2 linked regions of the Homo sapiens genome follow. The protein of the gene in region 1 interacts with the protein of each later gene in a biochemical or structural test. Each region holds a gene or a part of one and is shown in the gene's direction. Other genes may lie near its edges.

The links.
Region 2: the proteins of ALDH2 (region 1) and SIRT3 form a complex in vitro, tested with the Homo sapiens proteins (one study listed by BioGRID).

What each region holds. Positions count from the first base shown.
Region 1 is NC_000012.12:111,793,173-111,809,376, forward strand, and holds part of ALDH2 (aldehyde dehydrogenase, mitochondrial isoform 1 precursor), read left to right. Parts: intron 1-4,905; coding exon 4,906-5,070; intron 5,071-6,661; exon of another isoform or gene 6,662-6,733; coding exon 6,734-6,891; intron 6,892-10,686; coding exon 10,687-10,801; intron 10,802-16,204. UniProt on the Homo sapiens protein: Required for clearance of cellular formaldehyde, a cytotoxic and carcinogenic metabolite that induces DNA damage.
Region 2 is NC_000011.10:214,351-229,534, reverse strand, and holds the end of SIRT3 (NAD-dependent protein deacetylase sirtuin-3, mitochondrial), read left to right. Parts: intron 1-3,453; exon of another isoform or gene 3,454-3,862; intron 3,863-5,295; coding exon 5,296-5,457; intron 5,458-9,934; exon of another isoform or gene 9,935-10,493; coding exon 10,494-10,703; coding exon of another isoform or gene 10,704-10,757; intron 10,758-12,816; coding exon 12,817-12,837; 3' UTR 12,838-14,505; downstream 14,506-15,184.

The sequences.
Region 1 (16,204 bases):
TATTTCACTTCATGTTTTGAGCTGTTTGATTTTATTTATTTATTTATTTACCTATTTATATTTTAGAGACAAGGTCTCTCTTTGTTGCCCAGGCTGGAGTGTAGTGGTGCAATCATACCTCACCTCAGCCTTGAATTCCTGGGCTCAAGGAGTCCTCCTGCTTTGGCCTCTCAAAGTGCTGGGATTACAGACATGAACCACCACACCTGGCCTGGATTTTACTTTTGAGCAGTTGTAGGTTTATAGAAAAATAGAGCTGAACGTACAGAGGGTGCCCATATATTCCTTCGCACCTCCCTGTTCCACCAGTTTCCCCTTTATTCACATCCTGCATGAGTGTGGTTCATCTGTTAGTATTGATGAGCCAATACTGGTACCTTATTATTCACTTAGGTCTGTAGTGTATATTCGGGTTTTTTTTTTTAATTTTTATTTTTTTTGGAGACAGAGTTTTGTTCTGTCACCCAGGCTGCAGTGCAGTGGCACGATCTCGACTCATGCCTCCCGGGTTCAAGCAATTCTTGTGCCTCAGCCTCCTGAGTAGCTGGGACTACAGGTGCGCACCACCACGCCTGGCTAATTTTTTGTGTTTTAGTAGAGACAGGGTTTCACTCTGTTGCCCAGGCTGGTCTCGAACTCCTGAGCTCGGGCAATCTGCTGTCAGGCACCCAGCCTCGGGGTCATTTTTTGTGTTGTACTTACTATGGGCCTAGACAAATGTATCATAATGTGTATGATACCATCATTCTAGTATCATATAAATATATTTGTGCCCTGAAACCCCCGTCCTCCACCTATTCTTCCCTCTTTTCCTCCCCTGAGCCCTGGCAGGCAACCACTGATTTTTTTTTTTTTTTTTTTTTTTGAGACAGAGTCTCGCTCCGTCACCAGGCTGGAGTGCAGTGGCGTGATCTCGGCTCACTGCAACCTGTACCTCCTGGGTTCAAGTGATTCTCCTGCCCCAGCCTCCTGAGTAGCTGGGACTTACAGGTGCATGCCACCATGCCCAGCTAATTTTTGTATTTTTAGTAGAGACAGGGTTTCACCACGTTGGCCAGGATGGTCTCGATCTCCTGACCTCGTGATCCACCCACCTCAGCCTTCCAAAGTGCTGGGATTACAGGCGTGAGCCATTGTGCCTGGCCGATCTTTTTATTGTCTCTATAGTTTTGCCTTTTCCAGATTGTCTTATACGAATCATACAGTAGGTAGCCTTCTCAGACTGGCTTCTTTCTTTTAGCAGTTTGCATTTCTGATTCCTCAGTGGGGAGCCACAGCCATGTCTGAGGATGGACTGGCCTTGCCATGGGACAGGGTTATGTGCCCAACATCCCCCTCTTTGATTTTTTTTAGAGACAGGGTCTTGTTCTGTTGCCCAGGCTGGAATGCAGTGGTGTGATCATGGCTCACTGCAGGCTTAACCTCCTGGCCTCAAGTGATCCTCCTGCTTCAGCCTCCCAAGTAGGTGGGACTACAGGCACACGTCACCACACCTGGCTAATATTCATATTTTTTATAGAGATGAGGTCTTGCTATGTTACCCAGGCTGGTCTTGAATTGCTGGGCTCAAGCAATCCTCCCACCTCAGCCTCCCAAAGTCCTGGGATTGCAGGTGTGAGCCACTGTGCCTGGCCTCCAACATCTCTATCTTTAATAGCTTTATTGAGATATAATTCACGTAGCATAAAATGCACCATTTTAGTGTACGATTCAGTGATTTTTAGTATATTCACAACTTTGTGCAACCATCACCACTAATTCTATAATATTGTCATTGCCTCCCCTAAATATCCTGTACCCATTAGCAGTCACTCCCCATTCCTCCCCCTACCAGGCCCAGGCAACCACCAATCTATGTTCTGCCTATAGATTTATCTATTTTGGACATTTTATGCAAATGGAATCCTACATGGTTCTTTGTGTCTGGCTTCTTCCAAGTAGCCATGTTTTAAAGGTTCATCCATGTTGTAATAAGAATGTATCAGAACATAAAAGGCCAAGTAATATTCCATTGTGTGAATAGACCACATTTTGATTTTTCTATTAATCTGTTGACAGACTTGATTGTTTCCACCTTTTGGTTACTGTGAATAGTGCAGCTAGGGGCACTAACATTTCTTTCTTTCTTTTGAGACCGTCTCGCTCTGTCACCCAGGCTGGAGTGCAGTGGCATCATCTCAGCTCACTGCAACCTCCACCTCCTAGGTTCAAACAATTCTCCTGTCTCAGCCTCCTGAGTAGGTGGGACTACAAGTGCACGCCACCACGCCCTGCTAATTTTTGTATTTTTAGTAGAGACAGGGTTTCACCAAGATGGTCAGGCTGGTCTTGAACTCCTGACCTCAGGTGATCCACCTGCCTCAGCCTCCCAAAGTGCTGAGATTACAGGTGTGAGCCACCGCACCTGTCCTAACATTTCTTTTCTTTTTTTTTTTTTTGAGACAGAGTCTTGCTCTGTCTCCAGGCTGGAGTACAGTGGCACGATCTCGGCTCACTGCAACCTCCGTCTCCCAGGTTTGAATGATTCTCCTGCCTCAGTCTCCCGAGTAGCTGAGATTACAGGCGCCCACCACCATGCCCAGCTAATTTTTTGTATCTTTAGTAGAGACAGGGTTTCACCATGTTGGCCAGGCTGGTCTTGAACTCCTGACCTTGTGATCCGCCCACCTCAGCTTCCCAAAGTGCTGAGATTACAGGCTTGAGCCACTGCACCCGTCCTAACATTTCTTTTTGTCTCATTTCTCTTTGTGGCTAATTATTAAGATAATATAAACTTGCATTAATAAATTTAATGAGAAAGTGTTTAGGCTATGTGTGGCAGCTCACATCTGTAACCCCAACACTTTGGGAGGCTGAGGCAGGAGAATCTCTTGAGCCCAGGATTTCGAGATCAGCCTGGGCACTACAGCAAGACCTCATCTCTACTAAAAAAAAAAAAATGCAAATCATGACCAGCCTGGCCAACACGGTGAAACCTCATCTCTACTAAAAATACAAAAACTATTTGGGCGTGGTGGTGGGCGCCTATAATCCCAGCTACTCGGGAGGCTGAGGCAGGAGAATCACTTGAACCCGGGAGGCGCAGGTTGTGGTGAGCCAAAATCGTGCCACCGCACTCCAGCCTGGGTGACAGAGTGAGACTCCACCTCAAAAAATAAATAATTTTTTTTTTAAAAAAAAGCAAAAAAAAATTAGCCAGATGTAGTGATGCGTGCCTATACTCTCAGCTACTTGGGAGGCTGAGGTGGGAGCCCAGGAGGTCAAGGCTGCAGTGAGCAGTGATCACACCACTGCACTGCTGCCTGAGTGGCAGAGTGAGGCCCTGACTCTTTTTAAAAAAAGGTATTTAATGTAAAAAATAAGACTTTGTTGCATTTCTTTTATTCTCCATTGGTAACCACTCATGCACACACAGTTATGCTGTTGTATGTTTATTTTTTAAAAAATAGGCTGGGTGTGGTGGCTAACCCCTGTAGTCCTAACACTTGGGAGGGAGGCCAAGGTGAGTCAATTACTTGAGCCCAGGAGTTAGATACTAGCCTGGGCAACATAGCAAAACCCCATCCCTACTAAAAATATAAAAATTACCCAGGTGTGGTGGCACACACCTGTGGTCCAGCTACTCGGGAGACTGAGATGAGAAGATACCTGAGCTCAGGGAGATTGAAGTTGCAGTGAGCCGTGATTGTGCCACTGCTCTTCAGACTGGGCAATAGAGTGAGACCCTGTCGCCCTTCTCCCCTACCCTATAAAGGAGTATATAAGTGCATATTGTTCTACAAGCTTTACTTCTTTTTTTTTTTTTTTTTGAGACGAAGTCTCTGTTGCCAGAGCTGGAGTGCAATAGCGCGATCTTGGCTTACTGCAATCTCCACCTCCCTGGTTCAAGCGATTCTCCTGCCTCAGCATGTGCCACCATGCCCAGCTAATTTTTGTATTTTTAGTAGAGACGGGGTTTCACTATGTTGGCCAGGCTAGTCTTGAACTCCTGACCTCATGATCTGCCTGCCTCGTCCTCCCAAAGTGCCGAGATTACAGGCGTGAGCCACTGCCCCTGGCCCAAGCTTTCCTTCTTTTTACAGAGTATCTTGGGCCATCTTTCTGTGTCAGTTAGTTCACAGATCTATTAGTGATGACAATATACTGGATGCACCGTAATAATTTTAACCAACCCCTCTACTGATTTATACTTAGAATTGTTTCCATCTTTTGCCTTTACAAAATGCTCCCCCAGCCTGGGCTACAAGGCAAAACCCTGTCTCTACTAAAAATACAAAAATTAGCCCAGCGTAGGGGTGCATGCCTATAGTCCCAGCTACTCGGGAGGCTGAGGTGGGAGGATCATTTGAGCATGAGAGGCAGAGGTTACAGTGAGTGGAGATCGCACCACTGCACTCCAGCCTGGGTGACAGAGTGAGACCCCATCTCAAAAACAAAAATACAAAAAAAAAAAAATACTCCCTAGTGAATATCCTTGTTCATTTCTCTTTGTGCATATGTAGAATAAATTCCTAGAAGTTAAATAGCTGGGCCAAAGGATCTGAGTATATAATTTTTGAGCAATATTAATAAACCACTTGCTCTAAAGGCTGTACCAGTCTGTCATCCTTCTAACAGTATATGTAACGGTCTCTTGCTATCAGTGTATTTTCTTCCTAAACTTTTTGGTAATCTTATAGTTGAAAAGTAAAGATTGATTTGATGTCCTTTTCTCCGGTAGGCTGAGGAAGTTGGGCCTTTTTTGTGTTTTCTGCTATTGGCCCTGTGTGTTTCCTCTTCTGATCTTGCTTTCTTATGACCTTGGTCCATTTCCCAGTTGTCTTGTTGCCTGCATAATTCTAAGCCTGAAGCCTAGGAGAGGTCTGAATCCGATGTCTCCATAACTCTGGGTTCCTTCTCCCACAGGTGGATGAAACTCAGTTTAAGAAGATCCTCGGCTACATCAACACGGGGAAGCAAGAGGGGGCGAAGCTGCTGTGTGGTGGGGGCATTGCTGCTGACCGTGGTTACTTCATCCAGCCCACTGTGTTTGGAGATGTGCAGGATGGCATGACCATCGCCAAGGAGGAGGTGAGCACTTGGGGCCAGTGCTCTGGAAACATTCTTGGCGGGAGGTGAGGTAAACAGTTCAGCCTGGCATCCTGATGCTGTCACCCATCTGCTGGCTTGGGGCCAGATCTCAAGTTATACCCAGAACCAGTGCCCATAACACGCTATTCATAGTATGTATCTGATCTTGTCCCTCCTCTTCAGCTTGTACCCTCTGTCTGGGAGATCGTCTGCATTCCTCAGCATGGCCTGCAGGCCTTGGTGTCCTGGCCCTCAGAGCCAGGAGTCTAGGAATGACATTGTCTGCTCCTTCCCATGACCTTTTTTCTTTCAGTCAGATTCTTGCTCTGTTGCCCAGGCTGGAGTGCAGTGGCATAATCATGGCTCCTTATAGCCTTGAACTCTTGGGCTCAAATGATCCTCCCACCTCAGCCTTCTGAGTAGCTGGGACTACAGGTGCTCACCACCATGCCTGGCTAATTTTAAAAAAATTTTTTAGTACAGGCTGGGTGCAGTTGCTCACGCCTGTAATCCCAACACTTTGGGAGGCCGAAGTGGGTGGATCACCTGAGGTCATGAGTTCGAGACCAGCCTGGCCAACATGGCAAAACCCTGTCTGTATTAAAAATAAGAAAAAATTAGCCCTGCGTGGTGGCGCTTGCTTGAAATCCCAGCTACTCTGGAGGCTGAGGCAGGAGAATCGCTTGAACCTGGGAGGCAGAGGTTTCAGTGAGCCGAGATCGCGCCACTGCACTCCAGCCTAGGCAACAGAGCGGGACTCTGTCTCCAGTTTTAGCCACGCCTGGCTAATTTTTGTATTTTTAGTAAAGACAGGGTTTCACCATGTTGATCAGACTAGTCTCGAACTCCTGACTTCGTGATCTGCCTGCCTCGGCCTCCCAAAGTGCTGGGATTACAGGCATGAGCCACCACGCCCGGCTTATTTTTTCTCTTCTCGTTTTGAGATGGAGTCTCACTCTGTCGCCAGGCTGGAGTGCAGTGGTGCAATCTCAGCTCACTGCAACCTCTGCCTCCCGGGTTCAAGCGATTCTCCTGCCTCAGACCCTACTAGTAGCTGGGATTACAGGCGCACACCACCACGCCCAGCTAATTTTTCTTATTTTCAGTAGAGATGGGGTTTCACCATGTTGGCCAGGCTTGTCTCCAACTCCTGACCTCAGGTGATCCACCTGCCTCAGCCTCCCAAAATGCTGGGATTACAGGTGTGAGCCATCGTGCCTGGCCAAAAATTTTTTTTTTTTTTTTGAGTAAAGACAGGGTCTCTCTGTGTTTGCCAGGCTGGACTCGAACTCCTAGACTCAAGCAGTTCTCCCACCTTGGCCTCCCAAAGTGCTGGGATTACAGGCATGAGCCACAATGCCCAGCTGACTTAAATTCTTTGACACTAAATCTACGTGTCACGTGTGAATAACATACCTGGCAGGATTGTTTAGAAATGGGATACTGTATGTAAAGCCCGGGGCGCACAGGAGGAAGTTGGCCCCTGTTAGCTCCATTCCCTCTGTGTTCTGCTGAGCTTGATGGCTGTTGTCTTCCCCTGGAACTGTTAGAGCATGGCTGGGGGCTTATCCCCCAATCTGGAATCATCTGTTCTGCTCTGAGAGAGCTCGATGGCAGGTGCCTCCGTGTTGCCGAACCCTCCTACGCTGCTCTCTCACTCCAGATCTTCGGGCCAGTGATGCAGATCCTGAAGTTCAAGACCATAGAGGAGGTTGTTGGGAGAGCCAACAATTCCACGTACGGGCTGGCCGCAGCTGTCTTCACAAAGGATTTGGACAAGGCCAATTACCTGTCCCAGGCCCTCCAGGCGGGCACTGTGTGGTAAGAGCCTCCCAGCAGCCCCTCACAACCCAACAGAGATTCCTCAAAGCCAGGGCCTACTGGAATCTGGTGGTCACCATCCTGGAATTTGGGGAGCTGGGCTCAGTTTCTCCTGGGTCAGGGTGTGATGTCGATTTGAGAGGTCCTGCTACCTCACCTCCGAAGGATCAAGCTTCTCTGTGGTGCAAAGGCCCTGCACCTGAACTTGGCAGGCAGCGGAGTGGTGGGGCTCCTCCCCAGCTGCCTCAGGGCAGGAGACCAGAGCAGAGGGACCCATGATTGTGACACTGATCCTAAAAGCTTAGCCTCTGCTTCACACTTAGCCCCCACTAGGATGGCTATATTTTTATTATTTATTTATTTTTAGTTTTATTTTTTCAGACAGAAAAAAATATTCTACCCAGGCTGAAGTGCTGTGGGGTGCGATTATAGCTCACTGCAGCCTTGAACTCCTGGGCTCAAGCAATCCTCCCACCTCTGCCTCCTGAGTAGCTGGGACCACAGGTGTGTACCACCACACCTGGACAATTAAAAAACATTTTTATTTTTTGTAGAGATGAGATCTCGCCATGTTGCCCAGGCTGGGCTATATGTATATATATTTTAAAGTATTGGTAAGGATGTGGAGAAATCGGAACCCTCCTATGTTGCTGATGGGAATGGAAAATGGCACACTCATTGTGGAAAATAATTTGGGAGCTCCTCAAAAAGTTAAACATGAAGCCCCCATATGACCCAGCAATTCCACTCCTAGGTATTTATCCAAGAGAAAGAAAAACGTGCTCCCACATAAAAACGTGTATATGAATCTTCACAGCAGCATTATTTGTAACAGCCAAAAGGTGAACACAACCCAAATGTCCGTCTGTAGATGAATGGATACAGAATGTGATCTGTCCATGCAATGAAATGTGGCTCAGCCACAGAAAGGAATGAAGTAGCTGTATGAGTCTGTTCTCACACTGCTGGTAAAGACATTGCAGAGACCGGGTAATTTATAAAGGAAAGAGGTTTAATGGACTCACACAGTTCCACGTGGCTGGGGAGGCCTCACAATCATGGTGAAAGGTGAAAAGCATGTCTCACGTGGTGGCAGACAAGAGAAGAGAACTTGTGCAGGGAAACTCCCCTTTATAAAACCATCAGATCTTGTGAGACTTACTCACTGTCACAAGAATAGCATGGGAAAGACCTGGCCCCATGATTCAATTACCTCCCACAACACGTGGGAATTGTGGGAGCTACAATTCAAGATGAGATTTGGGTGGGGACAAAGCCAAGCCATATCAGTAGCCATGCATGCAATAGCATGGATTAATCTTGAACATAACATTGAGTGAAAGAACCCAGACTGTCTGGGTGCGGTGGCTCATGCCTGTAATCCCAGCACTTTGGGAAGCCGAGGTGGGTAGGTCACTTGAGGTCAAGAGTTTGAGACCAGCCTGGCCAACATGGTGAAACCTTATCTCTACTAAAAACACAAAACTTAGCTGGCTGTGGTGGCAGGTGCCTGTAGTCCCAGCTACTCGGGAGGCTGAGGCAGGAGAATCGCTTGAACCTGGGAGGCGGAGATTGCAGTGAGTGGAGATCATGCCACTGCGCTCCAGCCTGAGCGATAGAGTGAGACTCCAAAAAAAAAAAAAAAGAACCCAGGCACAAAAGGCCACATGCTGTGTGATTCCATTTACAGTATTATAAATATCTAGAATAGGCGAATCCATAGAGATAGAAAGTATGTTAGTGGTTGCCAGGGGCTGGGGGAGGGAGGAATGGAGAGTGCCTGCCTCCTGGGCACAGGGCTTCTTTCAGTGTGATAGAAATGTTCTGCAATTAGACAGTGGTGATGGTCACACAACACTGTGAATATGCTGTCAACCAGTGATTGTACACTTTAAAATGGTGAATTTTAGGCTGGGTGCAGTGGCTCACCCCTGTAATCCCAGCACTTTGGGAGGCCAAGGTAGACGGATCACGAGATCAGGAGATGGAGACCATCTTGGCCAATGTGGTGAAACCCCGTCTCTACTAAAAATACAAAAATTAGGCCTGGGCCTGGTGGCTCACACCTGTAAGGCCGTGGTGGTTCACACCTGTAATCCCAGCACTTTGGGAGTCCGAAGTAGGTGGAACATGATGTCAGGAGTTCAAGACCAGCCTGACCAACATGGTGAAACCCTGTTTCTACTAAAAATACACAAATTAGACGGGTGTGGTGGCATGCACCTGTAATCCCAGCTACTTGGGAGGATGAGGCAGGAGAATCGCTTGAACCCGGGAGGCAGAGGTTACAGTGAGTTGAGATCGTGCCATTGCACTCCAGCCTGGGTGACAGAGCAAGACTCTGTCTCAAAAAAAAAAAAAAAAAAAATTAGCCGGGCGCAGTGGTGGGCACCTGTAATCCCAGCTACTCAGGAGGCTGAGGCAGGAGAATCACTTGAACTTTAGAGGCAGAAGTTGCAGTGAGCCGAGATCGCACCACTGCACTCCAGCTTGGCAACAGAGTGAGACTCTGTCTCAAAAAAAGAAAAGAAAAAGGGCAGGGCGCTGTGGTTCACACCTGTAATCCCAGCACTTTGGGAGGCCAAGGCGGGCGGATCACGAGGTCAGAAGATCAAGACCATCCTGGCTAACACAGTGAAACCCCGTTTCTACTAAAAATACAAAAATTTAGCCGGGTGTGGTGGCGGGCACCTGTAGTCCCAGCTACTCGGGAGGCTGAGGCAGGAGAATGGCGTGAACCTGGGAGGCGGAGCTTGCGGTGAGCCGAGATCGCACCACTGCACTCCAGCCAGGGCGACGGAGCGAGACTCTGTCTCAAAAAAAAAAAAAAAAAGAAAATTAAAAATAGGCCAAGCGTGGTGGCTCACACCTGTAATCCCAGCATTTTGGGAGGCCAAGGCAGGCATATCACGAAGTCAAGAGTTTGAGACCAGCCTGACCAACATGGTGAAACCCTGTCTCTACTAAAAATAGAAAAATTAGCTGGGCATGGTAGCATGCACCTGTAATCCCAGCTACTCGGGAGGCTGGAGATTCGCTTGAACCTGGGAGGCGGAGGTTGCAGTAAGCTGAGATCTCACCACTGCACTCCAGCCTGGGCAACAGAGTGAAACTCCATCTCAAAAAATAATCTCAAAAAATAATAATAATAAATAAAAATAAATAAATAAATGGTAAATTTCAAATTCAAATAAAATTTAATAATTTTTTTAAATTGCAAAAAAAAAAAATGAAAGAAAAGAAAAGAAAGCCATCCAGGTGCAGTGGCTCATACCAGTAATCCCAGTGCTTTGGGAGCCTGAGGCAGGAGAATTACTTGAGGCCAGGAGTTCGAGACCAGCCTGGGCAACATAGTGAGACCCCATCTCTACAAAAAATAAAAGATAAAAAAATTAGCCAGGCATAGTGGCACATACTTGTTATCTTAACTACTTGGGAGGCTGAGGCAGGAGGATCACTGAAGACCAGGAGTTGGAGACCAGCCTGGGTAACATAATCAGACCCTGTCTCTTAAAAAAAAATTTATTGCCAGGCGTGGTTGCACGTGCTGGTAGTCCAGCTACTCAGGAAGCTGAGGCAGGAGAATCTCTTGAACCCCAGATGTGGAGGTTGCAACGAGCCAAGATCATGCCATGGCAACTCCAGCCTGGGCAACAGAGAAAGATTCTATCTCAAAAAAAAAAATTTTTTTTTAAGTTAAAAATAAAATAAAGACTTTGGGGCAATACAGGGGGTCCTGGGAGTGTAACCCATAACCCCCAAGAGTGATTTCTGCAATCTCGTTTCAAATTACAGGGTCAACTGCTATGATGTGTTTGGAGCCCAGTCACCCTTTGGTGGCTACAAGATGTCGGGGAGTGGCCGGGAGTTGGGCGAGTACGGGCTGCAGGCATACACTGAAGTGAAAACTGTGAGTGTGGGACCTGCTGGGGGCTCAGGGCCTGTTGGGGCTTGAGGGTCTGCTGGTGGCTCGGAGCCTGCTGGGGGATTGGGGTCTGTTGGGGGCTCGGGGCCTGCCAGAGGTTCAGGACCTGCCGGGGACTCAGGGCCTGCTGGAAGTTCAGGACCTGCTGGGGATCAGGGCCTGCCAGGGATTTAGGGTCTGCTGGGCGGGCCACCTTTTGGCCTCTCCCTCATGCTTGAGGCCATCAGTGTTTCCTACTAATTTCCCATTTTAAGCCTGAGAAGTGACAAGAGAGGGTAAAGACCCAGCCTCTGCTCTGTCCCATGAGAAATACTGAGGGACGTGCCCCCATCAGGCCTATGCGGTCATTTGCTGGGCTTCGTTATACGCCAAGGCCTGTAGGCCTGAGAAGAGGGAGAGACTTCAGGGGGCGGAGCGGAGAGGAAAAGCTTCTAGTAAGAATCTTTTCAGATTTTCACCAGGCGCGGTGGCTTTTCACCGGGCACGGTGGCTCACACCTGTAATCCCAGCACTTTGGGAGGCCAAGGTGGGTGGATCACGAATGAGGTCAGGAGTTTGAGACCAGCCTGACCAACATGGTGAAACCTTGTCTCTACTAAAATACAAAAATTAGCCAGGTGTGGTGGCGTGCGCCTGTAATCCCAGCTACTCAGGAGGCTGAGGCAGGAGAATCGCTTGAACACGGGAGGCGGAGGTTGCAGTGAGTCGAGATTGTGCCATTGCACTCCAGCCTGGGCAACAGAGCGAGACTCCGTCTCAAAAAAAAAAAAAAAAGAAAAGAAAAAAGAATTAGCTATTAGGTTGGAATGGAGCAATTCCCACAGTAATAAAAATATTTAAAAATAAATAATACAAACATAAGCTATTAGGCATGAGATATCAAGGCCCATAACCATATGCATCTCCTTTGATTTGCAACTTCAATGACTGGAATATAGCCTGAAGGACCCATCAGAAATACAAAGAAAGCGTTCCTTCCATAAATATTCATCACTGCTTTATCTCTAAGAGGGGAAAATCAGATGTAAACTTAATGCCCAATAAATTATGGAACACCCCAATCAAGGAGTAACAGGTATCTGTTACAAATGTTTTTGTAGAATATTTGATATGAAAAATGCTTAGCCTTTAAAGTAAAAGCAGTATACAAACTAATATATCATCAATATAAGCCCAATTTTTGGAATTTATGTACATAGATAGATACTCAGATACATTTACTTATAAATATAAAAAAAGAAAGGAAAAACTGGAGCGTGGTGTTGCATGCCTGTAGTCCCAGCTACTCGGGAGGCCAAGGTGGGAGGATCGCTTGAGCCACAAGTTTGAAGCTAGCCTGGAAAATGGGTTGAGCAGGCCTTTCCAGGATTGGAATCACCAGGCTGGAGTGTACTGGTGCCATCACAGCTCACTGCAGCCTCCACCTCCTGGGCTGAAGTGATCCTCGCATCTCAGTCTCCCGAGTAGCTGGGACTACAGGTGCACATCACCATTCCTGACTAATTTTTGTATTTCTTGTAGAGATGGGGTCTCACTATGTTACCCAGGCTGGTCTCAATCTCCTGGGCTCAAGTGATTCTCCTGCCTTGGTCCCAAAGTGCTGGGATTATAGGCATGAGCTACCACACCCAGCCTGGCTCTCAGTTTTGTAAGTCGAAAAACTTGGACAGGCCAAATTGAAGAGTCATGTTCGCCAATTTCATAAGCGATTAATTTGGCAATGTAGCAAGATACCATCTTATTAAAAACAAAATGGCCGGGCGCGGTGGCTCACGCGTATAATCCCAGCACTTCTGGAGGCTGAGGTGGGTGGATCACAAGGTCAAGAGATCGAGACCATCCTGGCCAAGATAGTGAAACCCTGTCTCTACTAAAAATACAAAAATTAGCTGGGCGTGGCGGCACATGCCTGTAGTCCCAGCTACTTGGGAGGCTGAGGCAGGAGAATTGCTTGAACCCGGGAGGTGGAGGTTGCAGTGAGCCAAGATTGCACCACTGCACTCCAGCCTGGCGACAGAGTGAGACTCAAAAAAAAAAAAAACAGGCCGGGCGCAGTGGCTCACACCTGTAATCCTAGCACTTTTGGAGGTTGAGGTGGGCAGACCACGAGGTCAGGAGATCGAGACCATCCTGGCTAACATGGTGAAACCTCGTCTCTACTAAAAATACAAAAACAAAATTAGCTAGGTGTGGTGGCAGGTGCCTGTAGTCCCAGCTACTCAGGAGGCTGAGGCGGAAGAATGGCGTGAACCCAGTGGGTGGAGCTTGCAGTGAGCCAAGATCGCACCACTGCACTCCAGCCTGGGCGACAGAGCGAGACTCCGTCTCAGGAAAAAAAAAAAAAGAAAAAACAAACAAACAGGGAAATATACACTGAAGTGAAAATGATTTACTGTGAATACTAATTATAGTTTAACCAGAAAACATAAACACAAGTGATGTTTAAGGAAGAGGCAAATGGGTTGAGCTAGCCTTTCCAGGATTGGAAAAGAGGAGGCTCAGGGCAAGCCTGCCAGCTGTGGAGCAGGTGAGAAAAGGCAAACGGGACTCATTCAGGGCCACAGTGCCAAGCCTGAGACTGGAGAGGCCGAGGACACAACCTGTGTTCCTGAATAGCTCACTGGAATCAACTAAACGTGTTTACTTGTTTAGTGTGGAAACTTTCCAATCTATGCAAAGAATAGGTATAATGGTAGAATGAGGCCAGGAGTGGTGGCTCATGCCTGTAATCCCAGCATTTTGGGAGGCCGAGATGGGCAGATCACTTGAGGTCAGGAGTTCGAGACCAGCCTGGTCAACATGGTGAAACCCCATCTCTACTAAAAATGCAAAAATTGGCCAGGCTGGTGGCATGTGTCTGTGGTCCCAGCTGCTTGGGAGGCTGAGACAAGAGTTGCCTGAACCCGGGAGGTGGAGGTTGCAGTGAGCTGAGATCGCGCCACTGTACTCCAGCCTGGGCAACAGAGCAAGACTCTGTCTCAAAAAACAAACAAACAGACCGGGCATGGTGGCTCACGCCTGTAATCCCAGCACTTTGGGAGGCCGAGGTGGGCGAATCACAAGGTCAGAAGATCCAGACCATCCTGGCTACGGTGAAACCCCATCTCTACTAAAAATACAAAAAATTAGCCAGGCGTGGTGGCGAGTGCCTGTAATCCCAGCTACTTGGGAGGCTGAGGCAGGAGAATGGTGTGAACTCGGGAGGCGGAGCTTGCAGTGAGCCGAGATGGTGCCACTGCACTCCAGCGTGGGAGACAGAGCGAGACTCTGTCTCAAAAACAAAACAAAACAAAACGGAAAAAAAAAAACAGTAGAATGAGCCTCTGTATCCCCACCATAAAGCTATGACAAAGATCAGCTCACAGCCAGTCTTGTTTACTGTATACCCCACCCACTTCCCAGTGGGTACACTTCATCCACTGCCCGAGCAGAGTCCACAACAGCAGGAGGTGGCCATGTGGGTGGACAGCCTGTGCTGGGCTTTGAGTTATGACATCGGATAAAAGGTCCAACTTCAGTTGGTGAGTCTTAAATCTTGGCACATGACTAGTGTTAAGGAGGCGATGTCCAGGATGGCCACGTGACAGGGTGGTATCTAAGCTGATATACCTGAAGGATGAGTGGAAGTAGAGATGGTGAGGGGAGGAAGAGAAGAACGTACTAAACAAAGAGCATAGCTTCTGGAAAAGCTGTGATGGCGAGAAATATGGCTCTTCCAGGAACTGCAGGAAGGTTGCTGGTGGTGGAAGATGTAGTGGTTAGTGGGGAGAGAGCAAGGCCAGAATGCACAGGCCCTTGTTGGCCATGATGTGGGGTTTGATGTCTTTGATAATGGAGTTTGATCTCAGCTATGGGAGCATTTTAAGTAGAAGAATTAGGTGGCTCAATTTTTTTTTTTTTTTTTCTGAGCCAGAGTCTTGCTCTGTTGCTCAGGCTGGAGTGCAGTGCTGTGATCTTGGCTCACTGCAACCTCCGCCTCCCGGGCTCAAGCGATTCTCATGCCTCAGCCACTTGACTAGCTGGGATTACAGGCGCCTGCCACCACACCTGGCTAATTTTTTGTATTTGTAGAGATGAGGTTTCACCCTGTTGGCCAGGCTGATCTCGAACTCCTGGCCTCAAGTAATCTGCCTGCCTCGGCCTCCCAAAGTTCTGGGATTACAGGTGTGAACCACTGTGCCTGGCCCACTCAATTTGTATTTTTAAAAGATTGCTCTGCTTAATCTATAGAGACAGAAACTTATTACTGGTCATCTAGGGCATGGGGAATGGGTAGTGGCTGCTCATGGGTGCAAGATTGCTTTTGGAGATGATGCAGATGTTCTAAAACTGGAGTATGGTGATGATTGCACAACTTAAAATATTCTAAAAGCAATTACACTTGATTGTGCATAAATCATATCTCAAGAAAGTTGTTTAAAAATTTAAGAAAGCGGCCAGGCGCGGTGGCTCACGCCTGTAATCCCAGCACTTTGGGACACTGAGGCAGGTGAATCACCTGAGGTCAGGAGTTCGAGACCAGCCTGACCAACAAGGTGAAATCCCTTCTCTACTAAAAACACAAAAATTAGCAAGGCTTGGTTGCAGGTGCCTGTAGTCCCACCTACTCGGGAGGCTGAGACAGGAGAATTGCTTGAACCTGGGAGGCAGAGGTTGCAGTGAGCCGAGATTGCGCCACTGCACTCCAGCCTGGGCAACAGAGTAAGACTCCGTCTCAAAAAAAAAAATTTAAGAAACCTCACTCTGCTTGCCCTAGGGAGAATGGACCATCCAGTATGAGGAGGGATGAGGGAGCTGTCAGGAGACTGCTCCAAGGAGAAAGATGGTGGTTTGGATTGGAGTGGTGCAGTGCAGGTGGAGAAAAGAGGGTATATGTGACAGGAAGCCAGGAGTAGGATTGGCGACTCTGGATATAGAGAGGAAAAGCAAAACTAGGAATCAAAGATGGCACCCAGGTTTCCAAGGAGGGGTTGAGTGGTGACGCCAGTCCTGTGATAGGGAACACTGAATGAAGTACTGTGGTTCTCTTTAGGGTTGTGTTTGGGGTACCTGTCCAAACCCAAGAGGTGATGTGGAGAACACATCTAGGGAGATGGGCTTGGAGCTCCAGGGGCAAGACCCAGATTTGAAATAGAAATTCTGACATCATTGGCCTATAACTCTTCATCAAAATCATAGTTACAGGCCACGTGCCATGGCTCACGCCTGTAATCTTAGCACTTTGGGAGGCCCAGACAGGCGGAACGCTTGAGCCCAGGAGTTCAAGACAAGCCTGGGCAACATAGTGACACCCCATCTCTAATAAAAATACAAAAAGTTAGCTGGGTGTTATGGTGCATGCCTGTAGTCCCAGCTACTTGGGAGGCTGAGGTGGGAGGATCGCTTGAG
Region 2 (15,184 bases), on another chromosome or scaffold:
GTTCACCCGCCTCGGCCTCCCAAAGTGCTAAGATTACAGGCGTGAGCCACCATGCCCTGCCCATGTTTAACTTTTTTGTTTGTTTGTTTTGAGACGGAGTCTAGCTCTTATCACCAGGCTGGAGTGCAGTGGCGCAATCTCGGCTCACTGTACCATCCGCCTCCTGGGTTCAAGCGATTCTCCTGCCTCAGCTTCCTGAGTAGCTGGGACTACAGGCACACACCACCACGCCCGGCTAATTTTTGTATTTAGTAGAGTAGTTTCACCATGTTGGCCAGGATGTCTCGATCTCTTGACCTCGTGATCCGCCTGCCTCTTTCTCCCAAAGTGTGGGATTACAGGCGAGAGCCACTGCGCCCGGCCCGTTTTAACTTTTTGAGGAACGAATATACTGTTATCTGCAGAAGCTGGACCATTTTACATTCCACCAACAGTGGGCAAGGGTTTCATCTTTTCCACATCCCAACACTTACTTTCCATTTTTTAATTACAGCTATCCCAGTGGGTGGGAGGTGGTAACCCACTGTAGCACTGATTGGCATTTTCCTAATGATTCATGATATCAAACATCTTTCCATGTGCTTTTTGGCCATTTGTATATCTTTGGAGATTGAAGTCCTTTGCGCATTGTTTAATTGTGTTGTCTTTTTTATTGTTAAGAGAGTCCTTTATATATTCTGGAAGCTAGATCCTTATCAGAGACATGATTTGCAAATATTTTCTGTCATTCTGTAGGTTGTCTTTTTTACTTTGTTGATGTCTTTTGATGCATAGAAGTTTTGATTTTGATGAAATCTAGTTTGTCTATTTATTTTCTCACTCTTTTGGAATCATATCTGAGAAATGGTATTGTTTTACTCCTGTTTTCTTATAAGAGTTTTATAGTTTAAAGCTTTTACATTTAGTTCTTTGATCCATTTTGAGTTAATTTTTGTGTGCGCTGTAAGGTAGGGATCCAGCTTCATTTTCTTTTATGTGGATATGTAATTGTTCCAGCACCATTTGTTTAAAAAAACTGTGGTCTTGGCATTGTTGTTGAAAATCAGTTGGCCATAGGTGTATGGGTTATTTCTAGAGTCTCAATTCTATTCCATTGTTATCTGTATATCCTTGTGCCTGCACTATAATGTTTTGGTTACTGTAGCTTTGTAGTAAGTTTTGAAATTAGGAAGTGTGAGTCCAGCACATAGTAGAAACTTGATATATACGTATTATTGTTTTGGTCAACTCATTCATTGAATGACCAATTTATTCAACAAATAGTTTAGTCTCCTCAGTGCCAGGCCCTTTGCTGGGTTCTGTGGATGTGAATAGAAATTAAAATAAGGTGGAGTCATCCAACAGTTACAACTGGGTGCCATACGAATTTTACTATAAATATGTACTGGACACTACACTGACTCAGCTGTAGGAACAGAGTAGGCTGGGAAGCACCTTTGAGATGAGGCCGTCTGGATGTAAGAGTCTGTTTCTGGCAGCAGAGACCTGGAGTGTGGGAGGCCTGCTTGCTCTGTTAGGGTTTGAACTGTATCCTGACGATCATGGGAGGCATTGGAGGATTTTTAGGCAGGAAAATGATGTGAAGGGATTTGCATTTAAAAGAGATTATTTGGGACTGGGCACAGTGGCTCACGCCTGTAATTCCAGCACTTTGGGAGGCCTAGACAGGCGGGTCACCTGAGGTGGGAAGCTTGAGAGCAGCCTGCCAAAATGGTGAAATCCCATCTCTACTAAAAATACAAAAATTAGCCAGGTGTGGTGGTGCACCTGTAATCCCAGCTACTCAGGAGGCTGAGGCAGAAGAATTGCTTGAACCTGGGAGGGGAGGTTGCTGTGAGCTGAGATCGCACCACTGCACTCCAGCCTGGGTGACAGAGTGAGACTCCATCTCAAAACAAAATAAATAAATAAATAAGAGAATAAAATAGATAATTTGGGCAACAGGTTGATGTTAATTCCCCACCTTTGTTCTTCTCCTTCAGTACTGTGTTGGCTGGTCTGAATCTTTTGGCTTTTCATATAAATTTCTGAAACTGTTGCTATCTGTTCTCTGCCTGTTTTATTTTTGTTGTTGTTGTTTGGATTTTTTGTTTTTTTGAGATAGAGTCTTGCTCTGTTGCCCAGGCTGGAGTGCAGTGGTATGATCTCAGCTCATTGCAACCTCCCCCTCTCAGGTTCAAGCGATTCTCTTGCCTCATCCTCCTGAGTAGCTGGGATTGCAGGCATGCGCCACCATGCCCAGCTAATTTTTGTATTTTTAGTAGAGATGGGGTTTCACTATGTTGGTGAGGCTGGTGTCGAACTCCTGACCTCATGATCCACCCGCCTCGGCCTCCCAAAGTGCTGGGATGACAGGCATGAGCCACCGTGTCTGGCCTCTCTGCCTGTTTTTTAAGACTTTTGTCTTTGGAGTTTTGCGGTTTCTCCACTGTGGTTTTCCATATGAATTTTCTTTTATTTCTTCTGCTTAAAATTTGTAGGCCAGTTGGTCATGGTGGCTCACGCCCGTAATCCCAGTACTTTGGGAGGCCGGGTGGGTGGATCGCCTGAGGTCAGGAGTTTGAGACCAGCCTGACCAACATGGAGAAACCCCATATCTACTAAAAATACAAAATTAGCCGGGCGTGATGGTGCATGCCTATAATCTCAGATACTCGGGAGGCTGAGGCAGGCGAATTGCTTGAACCAGGGAGGCGGAGGTTGCGGTGAGCTGAGATTAGGCCATTGCACTCCAGCCTGGGAAACAAGAGCGAAACTCCATCTCAAAAAAAAAAAAATAATAATAATAATTGTAGGCCTTCCTTAAGAAAAATAAAATAAAATTCTAGGCTGGGCGCGGTGGCTCCTGCCTGTAATCCCAGTACTTTGGGAAGCTGAGGCGGGTGGATCACCTGAGTTAGGAGTTTGAGACCAGCCTGGCCAACATGGTGAAACCCCGTCTCTACTAAAAATACAAAGATGAGCCATTTGTGGTGGCACCCATCTGTAATCCCAGCTACTCGGGAGGCTGAGGCAGGAGAATTGCTGGAACCCAGGAGGCAGAAGTTGTAGTGAACCGAGATCATGCCACTGCACTCCAGCCTGGGTGACAGAGCGAGATGCCATCTCAAAAAAATAAAATATAAAATAAAATTCTAAGCCCTGCAACCAACTGAATGGAGCCCTCCCCTTGGTCAAGGGAACCCCAGAGAAACCTTGGAAGCTTGAGTTCCTGGCCGTAGCAGGAGAGGAGGTCAGACGCGCCTCACTGTACCCCTCCCTCCCCAGCCACCATTAGGCTTCTTCACTAAGGGCTAAACAGAAACCAGCCCTTTTCAAAGACTCTACACTGCTAATGTGGATTACTGGTTTATCTTCCCAGATACAGATTAAAGACAAGATGAGATTAATGGTTCCTTCACCCTTCCCTGAGAGGTCTGCTTAGTTCTCTTCCTCTGTTTCCTTCTATCTTAGGTAAAATGTACATTTACTGGGCACTTACTGAAGTCTCACAAGTACGTAACCACTCACCTCACAGCCACCCTCCCTCTTTGAAGGACCACATGTAATTACTAAACCTCCTGAGAACCTCTTGGGACAGAAACAAGCACAGATGTGCCGTGACTCATGTTTTTCCTGTGGGCACCCTCAGGCTGGCTCAGTAGCCCTCACTTGCTTGAGATCCTGAATCTGCGGGTTGGCGTCTTTCATGGTTGCTGGATCATACTCTGCCGTTATCTCTTCGGATATGAGTTGCCCCTAGCCCACTATCTGGCCCCTCTCTTTAGGGACCTCTGATTGAACATACATTAGACCTTCTCTCTCCTGCTGTTCCTGATCACTCTTCTGTCCTGTAATTGCTGCTTCTTGTGCTGCATTCTGGGTAATTTCTTCTGGTCTTTTTTCCAGTTTACTAATATTGTATTCTGTTATAAGGTCCTTCCATTGAGTGTTTCTTTCTTTCTTTTTTCCCAAACAGCAACTCAAAACAGACATTGAGTTTTAATTTTGGTTCCTGTACTTTTTATTTCTAGAAGTTCTATTTGGTTATTTTTCAAGTCTGCTACATTATTACATAATTTTTTAATAATTTTATATCTTTAATAGATAGTTTTTTGTTTTGTTTTGTTTTGTTTTGTTTTTTGAGACAGAGTCTCGCTTTGTTGCCCAGGCTGGAGTGCAGTGGTGCAATCTCAGCTCACAGCAACCTCCGCCTCCCAGGTTCAAGTGATTCCCCTGCCTCAGCCTCCCAAGTAGCTGGGATTACAGGCACGCATCACCACGCCTGGCTAATTTTTTGTGTTTTAGTAGAGACAGGGTTTCACCATGTTGGCCAAGACAGTCTCGATCTCCTGACCTCGTGATCTGCCCACCTCGGCCTCCCGAAGTCCTGGGATTACAGAGCTGAGCCACTGCGCCTGGCCTTTGATAGATATTTCAAGTTCATCTTTTTTTTTTGCTTCCTTAATTTTTTTTTTTGCTATACCCCATGCCTCCAAGATAACAGTTTTTTCTTTTTAATTTAAATATAATACAGTTTTACTGTGTATCCAAGAATATCTGAAATCTTTCGTGGGTCTCTTTCTTTTGTCTTTTGTATCTGTTGCTTTTTGCTGGGCTGAGCCTGCTTAAAACAAGCCCCGTTAGCTGTAAAGGTTTACCTTAGAAAGTCAGGTGTCTTCCTCTGTAACTCTCTCCCTTTTCCATCTGCTCCAAGGCATTTATTTATATTAATCTTGACGCAAAGGGAAGTTGTGTCCACTTCACCTTGGCCAGTAAGGAAGCAGTGTTTGGCAGATGTTGTTACTCCTAATAATGCCAGCCAGTGAGTGAAGCTGACCTGAATGCCTCCCAGGGCTGAGGCAATGGCATGATCACCGAAGCTCAAACCAGAGACAGTTTCACCTTTCTGACTGAATAGTGTTCGGTGTAGGCCAAATGCCTGCAGACTACTGTTTGAGGACTGGTGTGGTCTACCAGGTGTTTCCTTAGCGCCTGGATGTCTCTGGCTGCCATCCCAGGGATAGAGCATGGTGTTAGATACGCTAGATGCCTGCCGAAGTAATTATGGGTGAAACATATGATGTCCAAGATTTGCTTTTAAAGGCTCCAATACCTCCTCCCAGATTCCGGAGGGCTGTGAAACAATTAGCTATGAAAACTGGTAATTCCTGAAGCTGGGTACATGGGGGTTCATGATCCCTCTCTCACCTTTTTTGGGGGAGAATGTTTGAGACTTTAATAAGAACTTGTTGCCTTTTCCTTTTACAGGGTGTTGCAGGCATCTTCCTCAGGCCTGTTTTCTCTGTTTTCCAGGCTGACGTGATGGCAGACAGGGTTCCCCGCTGCCCGGTCTGCACCGGCGTTGTGAAGCCCGACATTGTGTTCTTTGGGGAGCCGCTGCCCCAGAGGTTCTTGCTGCATGTGGTTGATTTCCCCATGGCAGATCTGCTGCTCATCCTTGGGACCTCCCTGGAGGTTTGTCAGCAGGCCTGTGCAGGGAGGAGGCTGGAGGGCAGGGGAAGGGAGGGGTACAGGAGTCATCTCATGGGCTGTCGGCAGGCCTGTGCAGGGAGGAGTCTGGAGGGCAGGGGAAGGGAGGGGTACAGGAGTCACCTCATGGGCTGTCGGCAGGCCTGTGCAGGGAGGAGGCTGGAGGGCAGGGGAAGGGAGGGGTACAGGAGTCATCTCATGGGCTGTCGGCAGGCCTGTGCAGGGAGGAGGCTGGAGGGCAGGGGAAGGGAGGGGTACAGGAGTCATCTCATGGGCCCTTCCAGGGCTGGTGCCACTTTGGGAAGGTGAATGGATTCAGCTGGGGTTCCAGGCTGAGGGAGCAGCAGCCTGTGCAGGAGACAGGAAGGTGGGAAGCTGCTGGGCTTTGGAGGTGGTATAGGTGTGGGTGGGGCACCACGTGTGAGGAGAAGGGAGAAGGATGGGGGTGTGGGGGCGAGGTGGAGGGGCAGGGCCTCCCAGGTCAGATCAGGAATACTGATGCTGCAGTGGGAGGAGTGATAAATCCACAGGGACTGGCCCGGGGACGTAGCTGCACCCTTGGGGTCAGGGAGGCCTTTGGGGAGTGGAGAGTGGAGCAAGCAGTGCCAGGAGGCTGGTCCTGGAGAAGGTGGAGCTGTGGTCGCCTGAGGGATGGCGAGGAGGGGGACTGGACTCGCAGTCTGTGATGTTTTGGGGACGTGAGAAGGAGGCGTCTGGCTTGGTCTGTAAGGTCAGGGCACTTGCTGGTGAGGCGTGATTTGGGAGGGAGGATGCCCAGCTCGGTTCTGTGTGTGTCTGAGGTGTCGGGAAACATGCCCTGGATGTGTTCAAGCAGCTGTTCTGCGTCTGCGTCTGCAGCTCAGGAAATTCCTAAAAGCTGTGATGAGAGCAAGAAATGAGACCATGAAGTCAGTGTGTGCGTGACTGGATGTAGGCACCGAGGACAGAAGGGCCAGAAAGACCTGTGCTCAGAGGGGCCCAGGGCAGCCACAGGGGCCCAGAGCATGTGTTTGTTCAGGCATTCATTGTGTGCTGGGCCCTGCTCCAGTGCTTTGGACATACACGGTCAGATGTCAGTGTAAGAAGTTATATAGTTTGTTAGGAGATGATTGATGTTATGAGAAAGATAACAAGTAGGATAGAAAGGCTAGAAGGGTTGGGAACCAGCTGCAGTGTCAAGTCAGGCAGGTGGAGTTGGATCTAAGAGTTTACCGAGGTGAGGAGGGTCTGGCAGGGGACACTGCACAGGTGACAAGCAGCAAGGAGGGTGGGGCGAAGTCAGCATTGATGGCCACGGGGCTGGAGCAGAGAAGAAGGTGGGGCACAAGTGTCATCTCATGGGAGGCTGGCGCCACCTCAGAAGGTGAATGGGTTCAGCTTGGGTTCCAGGCCAGAGTCTGAAGTTGAGAGGACTCCGTTGGGTGCTGGGCTGTGAGCCCACCATGGGGGCAAGACTGGGAGCAGCAGACCCAGCAGGGCCCTTGTAGGTAATCACCGGCTGGCACTGGCTGGGGGCCAGGTAAAGCCAGCAGAGGCTGAGGGGTGCTGGAGTCTGGGTGTGTGTGAACGCAGAGTGGGTACGCTGGCACAGTGCATGGGAGGCCGTGGATTCCCAAGGACCCCAGGGCTGTGGCTGGAGCAGCTGGAAAGACGGAGCCGCCGCTTCCTGAGATGGAGAAGCCTGGTAGGTGGGTTTGGGGGAGCTCAGGAACTCAGCCTTGTTTCCACGGATTTGAGGATGTGCTGCGGACTGGAGGTGTTGAGCAGGTGGACATGAGTCTGGAGTCCAGGAAGGCCCAGAGGCAGGAGCTGGGGTGCTGGAGTGAGCAGACAGGAGAGCCCAGGGTGTGGACAGACATGAGAATGCCATGCTAGGCCTAGGATGGAGGGACAGACACAGGAGGAGCAGTCAGAGGGGCCATGGTGGTCAGCACAGTGTGGGCTGAGACCAGCTGACCGTGCTGGCCACCAGGTGTGGACACTTGGGCCACCAGCCATCTTTATTGTTGAAGTGAAATGAAAATGGCCTTTTTCCTGATTATAAGTGTATCATGTGTGTCTTTGAAAAGATTCGTACATTATATAAAGATATAAAGCAAAGGATCAACTTTTTAATCCCACCAACTGTTAGCATTTTATTCTGTGTCCTCTCAGCTTTCTTTTTTTTGTACAAATGCATACGTACAGATGGTAATTTTAAACTAAAAGTTGGACAGCACTGTACATTCTATTCTGCAGCCTGCTGTTTTCACGTAACAATGTGAGTCCATGGAGATGTGCTGCGTTGTTAATGCCAACAGTTTCCCTTACACGGATATGAGGTCCCAACTGAGAAACCCATGTCTGTAAGGCTGGTGCCATCATGAACTGAATGAGCTGGTGTCACGCACAGACTCTATCTCATGTGCTTTGTGGACGAAATGTTAATGTGTTTGACTGTGGAGTACCACTCCAGATCCCCTTTAGGTGTGACATAACGTGGGATGTAAACCATATGATCTTTTCTAAAATCTCAAAAATTCTGAAACATATTCAGCCACAAGAGCTTTAACATAGATTTTGTGGATTTAATACAAAATTTATGTAAGCAATTTCTTACTGATGGACAATGATAATAAATAGTATATAATTTTTACATTAAAAGTAATGCTGGGCCAGGCACCGTGGCTCACACCTGTTATCCCAGCACTCTGGGAGGCCAAGGCAGGAAGATTGCCTGAAGCTAGGCATTTGAGACCAGCCTGGGCAGTATAGTCAGACCTCGTCTCTACAAAAAATAAAAAGATAGCCAGGCATGGTCTGTGTAGTTGCAGCTATTTGAGAGGCTGAGGAAGGAGGATTGCTTGAGCCCAGGAATTTGAGGTTATAGTGAACTATGATCATGCCACTGCATTCCAGCCTGGGTAACAGAATGAGATCCCGTGCTGTAGTGAATATCCCTGTGTATCATCCTTATCTACTCATGCAAGTACTCCTGAAGGGTAAATGCTGTAGTGAATATCCCTGTGTATCATCCTTATCTACCCATGCAAGTACTCTGGAAGGGTAAATGCTGATAAATACTGAGAACTTGCCTTCCGGTGAATATCCCTGTGTGTCATCCTTATCTACCCATGCAAGTACTCCTGAAGGGTAAATGCTGTAGTGAATATCCCTGTGTATCATCCTTATCTACCCATGCAAGTACTCTGGAAGGGTAAATGCTGATAAATACTGAGAACTTGCCTTCCGGTGAATATCCCTGTGTGTCATCCTTATCTACCCATGCAAGTACTCCTGAAGGGTAAATGCTGTGGTGAATATCCCTGTGTATCATCCTTATCTACCCATGCAAGAACTCCTGAAGGGTAAATGCTGATAAATATTGAGAACTTGCCTTCCAGAAAGATGTAACAATTACACTGCCACAAACTGTGTTTTTATGTAGCCATTTTATCACATCCTCACCAAAACCAAAATCACACAAATCAAATTGGTTAAAAAATGCATGTGTGTGTGTGGAGGGGGGTGCGGATTTTGCCTTTCTGTAGTAAAGAATGAAGTTCATCTTTTCATGTTTATTGCCAGTTGTGTTTCTTCTCTTTGGATTGTATATTTGTACCTCTTGACCATTTTTCATTGGGTCATTATAAATTAGCAATATAAATTAGTTTTAATTTTAGTATAAATTAAATAATATAATTACATTTTAATGTTAATATAAACTTCTTTCTTTTTTTTTTTTTTTTTTTTGAGACAGAGTCTTGCTCTGTCTCCCAGGCTGGAGGTTCAGTGGCGCGATCTCGGCTCACTGCAACCTCCACCTCCCAGGCTCAAGCCATTCTCCTGCCTCAACCTCCCGAGTAGCTCGGATTATAGGTGCGTGCCACCACGCCCAGCTAAGTTTTGTATTTTTAGTAGAGACGTGGTTTCACTATGTTGGCCAGGCTGGTCTTGAACTCCTGACCTCAGCTGATCTGCCCGCCTCGGCCTCCCAAAGTGCTGGGATTATAGGTGTGAACCACCATGCCCAGCTGTTAATATAAATTTCATTATAAATTAGCATTATAAATTAGTTCATAAATTATATGTTTATAAATGAGTTTATCAATTAGCAATATAAACTATTGTCATATGTTGTAAATATTTTTGCAGTTTATGATGATGAGAGGTTTTTAAAAATTTTAAATTTTCTACATAGTAGTTTTATGTAGATACCGAGATAATAGTATTTACATAGTCAGATCTGTCATTTTCCTTTGCCTTATCTGACTTCAGTTTTTACGCCTAGAACGTTCTTCCCTATCCTTACTTGTAAATCCTTAGTTTTCTTCAAGAACTGTTTTGTTTACATTGAAACCTTTAATCCATTTGAATTTTTTTCAGTGGGAGGTAGGAATGGAGTATTTTCCTCCCAGATAATGAGCCAGTTTTAATGCCATTTATTAATGTATCCATTTTTTTACCTTGTTCCTCTTAAAAGAAGCTTTGAGAGCTGTATGAAGAAGCCTGATGGCACCGAGCTAGGCCTCTCTAGAGGCTGGGTGGGGAAGACCATGGAGAGACGTAACAGTAACTCCTGCTCGGGGGCACCAGCTCGTCTGGGTGCCCGATGCTGGTGGTGGCTGTCAGAGCAAGCAGGGCTAGCCAGAGGAGATGGACGAGTCTGTGCTGTTGTCCCTCTGCGTCATGCTGGGAGACAGCGAGGTGGGGAGGACAGGGAGAACAGAACGTGCTCACAAAGAGGAGGCAGGAAGGTTGGATCCCTGATGAGCCTTGGAACGGAGGTGGGGAAAAGCAAGGATGTGTGGAAACAGCAAGAAGTGGGAGAGAGAGAGAGAGGCGGAGGGGAGAAAACCGTCACGGAGGCCAAGCGGCAGGAGCTCAGCTGAAGAAATGAGATTGGTGGTGGGTTTTCCCTATATCGCAGGCTCTGACTGCCAATCTGCTGCTCCTCCAAGGCCTCGGTGGCTGTGGCATGAAACATCCTGAGGAGCTTGTAAAGTGGACACTGTGCCCCTCACGTTTGGCCCATTTTTCAGGTGGAGCCTTTTGCCAGCTTGACCGAGGCCGTGCGGAGCTCAGTTCCCCGACTGCTCATCAACCGGGACTTGGTGGGGCCCTTGGCTTGGCATCCTCGCAGCAGGGACGTGGCCCAGCTGGGGGACGTGGTTCACGGCGTGGAAAGCCTAGTGGAGCTTCTGGGCTGGACAGAAGAGATGCGGGACCTTGTGCAGCGGGAAACTGGGAAGGTACAGACTGCTGAGGAGGACCATCCAAGGGGCTGCCCTTCTCACTGCTCTAGGGTATGGTCCACCTGATATGGAGCCCCGTTGGTTAACACAGTAACAGTAATAGCTGATGATGCTGTGAATCCTGCACCAGGCACTACCTGGACCTGACTGGGTGTTACTTTCAATACCTCCATTTAGAGATGAGGAAACAGATGCTAACAGGCCAAGCAGGGACACGGTCCAGACACTCAGGGCTGATGAGTCTGTATTCTTAACAGACTATAGGCGTTACCTTCACTCCCTAAAATAAAGCAGCCAACAGTGTCCCTCTAAGGCCTGGTATGTGATTCTAAGATGATACGGGTTAAAGAACTTTGAGAAGCTAAAGTTCTCTGCATCTATGTGGGATGAAGGCTACATGAGTGATGCTTTTCGGAAGTAATTGGTATGAGAGCCATTGATCAATTATAATCCGCTGAGGAAAGCCAAAGAGCCTTGATGCTTTCTAAGAGATTTCAAACCGCCTATAAACAAGTGAAGTTACAGAAAATGCAGTTTCCCATAAGAATCATGTAGCATGTGTAGCCTTGATATTAAGGGTTTTCAATGGGAGGTGGTAGCATTAAGCATTTAAAGTCCAGTGTCATGATTACAGGCAGGTGTAACACTGTCCAAAGGGGATTTCACCAGTGTATTAGTCTGTTCTCTGGCTGCTCATAAAGGCATACCTGAGACTGGGTAATTTATAAAGGAAAGAGGTTTAATGGACTCACAGTTCCATATGGCTGTGGGGGCCTCACAATCATAGTGGAAGGCAAAGCAGGAGCAAAGTACTGTCTTACAAGGTGGCAGGCAAGAGGACGTGTGCGGGGGAACTGCCCTTTATAAAACTATCAGATCTTGTGAGACTTATTCACTATCAGAAGAAGAGTGTGGGAAAGACCCGCCCCCATGATTCAGTTACTTCCACTTGGCCCCACCCTTGACACATGGGGATGATTACAATTCAAGGTGAGATTTGGGTGGGGACACAGCCAAACCATATCAACTACAATATATCACAGTTGATGCTCCTCTTGCCTTCCAAGGCAGATGTCTTAGGAAATCCTGATCCTTTTTCCTTGTCCACAGCTGTGGCTGCCTCATGGCTCAGGGCCATGGGGTCAGCACTCTCCTCACCTCCACCAGTCCAAGACCTCCAACCTCTGGTTGCAGGCTGATTTTTTACCAATCATGGTCACTTCATTATGGAGGCAGGGAACCCAGCTAACAATGAGGCTTAAACGCTGAGAGGCGAGTGCCTCCTGGCCAGCTCACAAGGCAGCGGAGATCTTAGATCAGCCCAGCAGGCTTTTTTGAGGGATCCTTTTCCTGCTCCAACTTCATATTTTCTTTTTTTTGTAATGGAGTTTCACTCTTGTTGCCCAAGCTGGAGTGCAATGGCACGATTTTGGCTCACTGCAGCCCTGCCTCCTGGGTTCAAGTGATTCTCCTGCCTCAGCCTCCTGAGCAGCTGGGATTACAGGCATGTGCCACCATGCCTGGCTAATTTCTGTACTTTTATTAGAGATGGGATTTCATCATGTTAGTCAGGCTGGTCTCAAACTCCTGACCTCGGGTGATCCACCTGCCTCAGCCTCCCAAAGTGCTGGGATTATAGGCATGAGCCAGCAGGCCCGGCCCAACTTCCTGTTTTCATAGAAAAGCAGATTGTAACTCTGGTAGCTCCTGTGGAGTTTTGGAAGTGGCTTAATAGGATTTGAACTGTATAATCTAGTTTCAGAGAAATGTATGTAAAATGGGTTATGATTTCATTTTCTGTTTTTTACAGCATTACTATCCAAGGGGTTACTTTTCCAAATAGTGAATGCTTTTAAGCACATGAGCATCAGTACATATTGATTTGGGTACTTTAAGACCCATAGAATGAGGCTCTCCATTTAGCCACCCTGTTCTGCCCAGGCCTGCTGGGATCCTCTTAGCCCAGCACAGCAGCAGCAGTATTTGCAGAAAGCAGCTTGTTTTGTGAAATATTTTGCATGTCTGCAGCTAGAGCTGTTTGAACAGAGATCTGCTGGCCTGCCTGGGTGTGTAAACAGATAGCTGATACCCTCTGTCTTCTGTATTCCAGCTTGATGGACCAGACAAATAGGATGATGGCTGCCCCCACACAATAAATGGTAACATAGGAGACATCCACATCCCAATTCTGACAAGACCTCATGCCTGAAGACAGCTTGGGCAGGTGAAACCAGAATATGTGAACTGAGTGGACACCCGAGGCTGCCACTGGAATGTCTTCTCAGGCCATGAGCTGCAGTGACTGGTAGGGCTGTGTTTACAGTCAGGGCCACCCCGTCACATATACAAAGGAGCTGCCTGCCTGTTTGCTGTGTTGAACTCTTCACTCTGCTGAAGCTCCTAATGGAAAAAGCTTTCTTCTGACTGTGACCCTCTTGAACTGAATCAGACCAACTGGAATCCCAGACCGAGTCTGCTTTCTGTGCCTAGTTGAACGGCAAGCTCGGCATCTGTTGGTTACAAGATCCAGACTTGGGCCGAGCGGTCCCCAGCCCTCTTCATGTTCCGAAGTGTAGTCTTGAGGCCCTGGTGCCGCACTTCTAGCATGTTGGTCTCCTTTAGTGGGGCTATTTTTAATGAGAGAAAATCTGTTCTTTCCAGCATGAAATACATTTAGTCTCCTCAAAGGGACTGCAGGTGTTGACATGAGTTGGAAAGGGAACCCTGGGATACGTGGCGTCCCCTCTATTGGAACAGTCTGAGGACTGAAGGCATTTGTCCCTGGATTTATTGGAGACGGCCCAGCTCCTCCCTCTGAAGGTGGTCACATTCTGTTGACTCTCCATACTCAGCCTCTCCTCCAGAAACAGATCTGTTCCAGAACATTCCAGCACTTTCTATCTGGCCTCCTTGTCCCCACACTACGCCCCCCCACCCTCGCCAGGGCTTCCTCTAGTGACACTGTTAGAGCTAATCTCTGAGACAGGGAAGGCATTACTCACTTAAAACCCAGGCTGAGTCCTGGCCACCTGCTGGATTGTGACATAGGAGGTGGAATCCACTGAACTGCTACTTCTGCACAGGCTCCTTCTCCTGGGGCTGTACCCAGGCCCAGCCCTGATGGCTCACCCTGTCAGGCACCAGCTGCTCCCTCCTGGGCTCTCACCCACCTGCACATCCTCCTTCCTAGCATCACATTACCTGCGTGTTTCCCCAGACAAAAGCACTTCCCATTCTTGAACCTTGCCTACCCTGGGCTGAGCTGACGGCAATAGATTTAATGACAGTGACTCCCAGGAAGGGGGTCCTGTGACTTTGCGCCTTAATAAGAACAAAAGGTGGAATTGGTGACCTAGGAAAACTGTTGAATTCTAAAAAGAATGAAGTTAGTTTCTAACCCTAGTTAATGTTCCTTTTTTATTTTTTGAGTCTTGCCCTGTCACTCAGGGTGGAGTGCGGTGTTATGATCTCAGCTCACTGCAACTTCCGCCTCCCGGGTTTAAGCGATTCTCCTGGGTAGCTGGGATTACAGGTGTGTCCCACCACACCTAGCACATGGGCATATTTGTAATAGAGACAAGGTTTTGCTATGTTGGCCAGGCTGGTCTCGAACTCCTGGCTTCAAGTGATCCACCCACCTCGGCCTCCCAAAGTGCTGGGATTACAGGCATGAGCCACTGTGCCTGGCCCCTTTATTTGATAATTTACACATACATTTTTGTCCAAAACTCTTCTTTATTTCAAGATGATGTTTCTGTGGCTATGTGTGGTATGTGGTATAAATCTCAATCTATGGTCACACGAGGGGCATTTTCCTTGTTGTAAGTGTAGTCTAAACCAGTAGGAAGGAGGTTTAATTGCCAAAACCAGCGAGAACTCGGGCACTGTGGATACTACAGTGGGCAGCTGAACGAGGACCAAGGAGAATGTCTAAGAGGCCTCCAGCCCTGCGCTCAGTGAAGACAGGACAGGAACAACAGAGCATACATACCTTGGAAGGGTGTGTTCTGATATACTCGTATGGAAAGTTCTGACAGGTTTTCTCCCTGGGAAGTGCAGCACATACCCCAACACACTGGCTCTGCCAGTGTGCCAATCCCAGATGGTGCTTGCTTTGTGTGCACCCACACCCAAACCCCTGCCCTCCCATATGCTCTTCTGTGTGCCCAGGTAGGCCCTGCCCTCAGGCAGCAGCTTCTGAACACATTCCTCTTGGCGCAGACAAAAGAAAGTACTTCGTCTGTGGAATTCGAGGCTGAGCCTGAGTTCTAGCACAAGAAGACCGTTGCAGTCCAGAGATGAGAAACTGGACCAGAGGCAAATCATGAACAGAACGGGAGTCAAGAGAAGGGGTTTCTAAGATGGAGAAGTGGGGGCGGGTGTGGATCCAGTGGGATGTGGCTTCCCCAGGTTGCAACCCCAAGGAAGTCTCTGGAAGCAGCACCAGTCCTGATGGGGGAGCAGAAGAGCTGCCATCC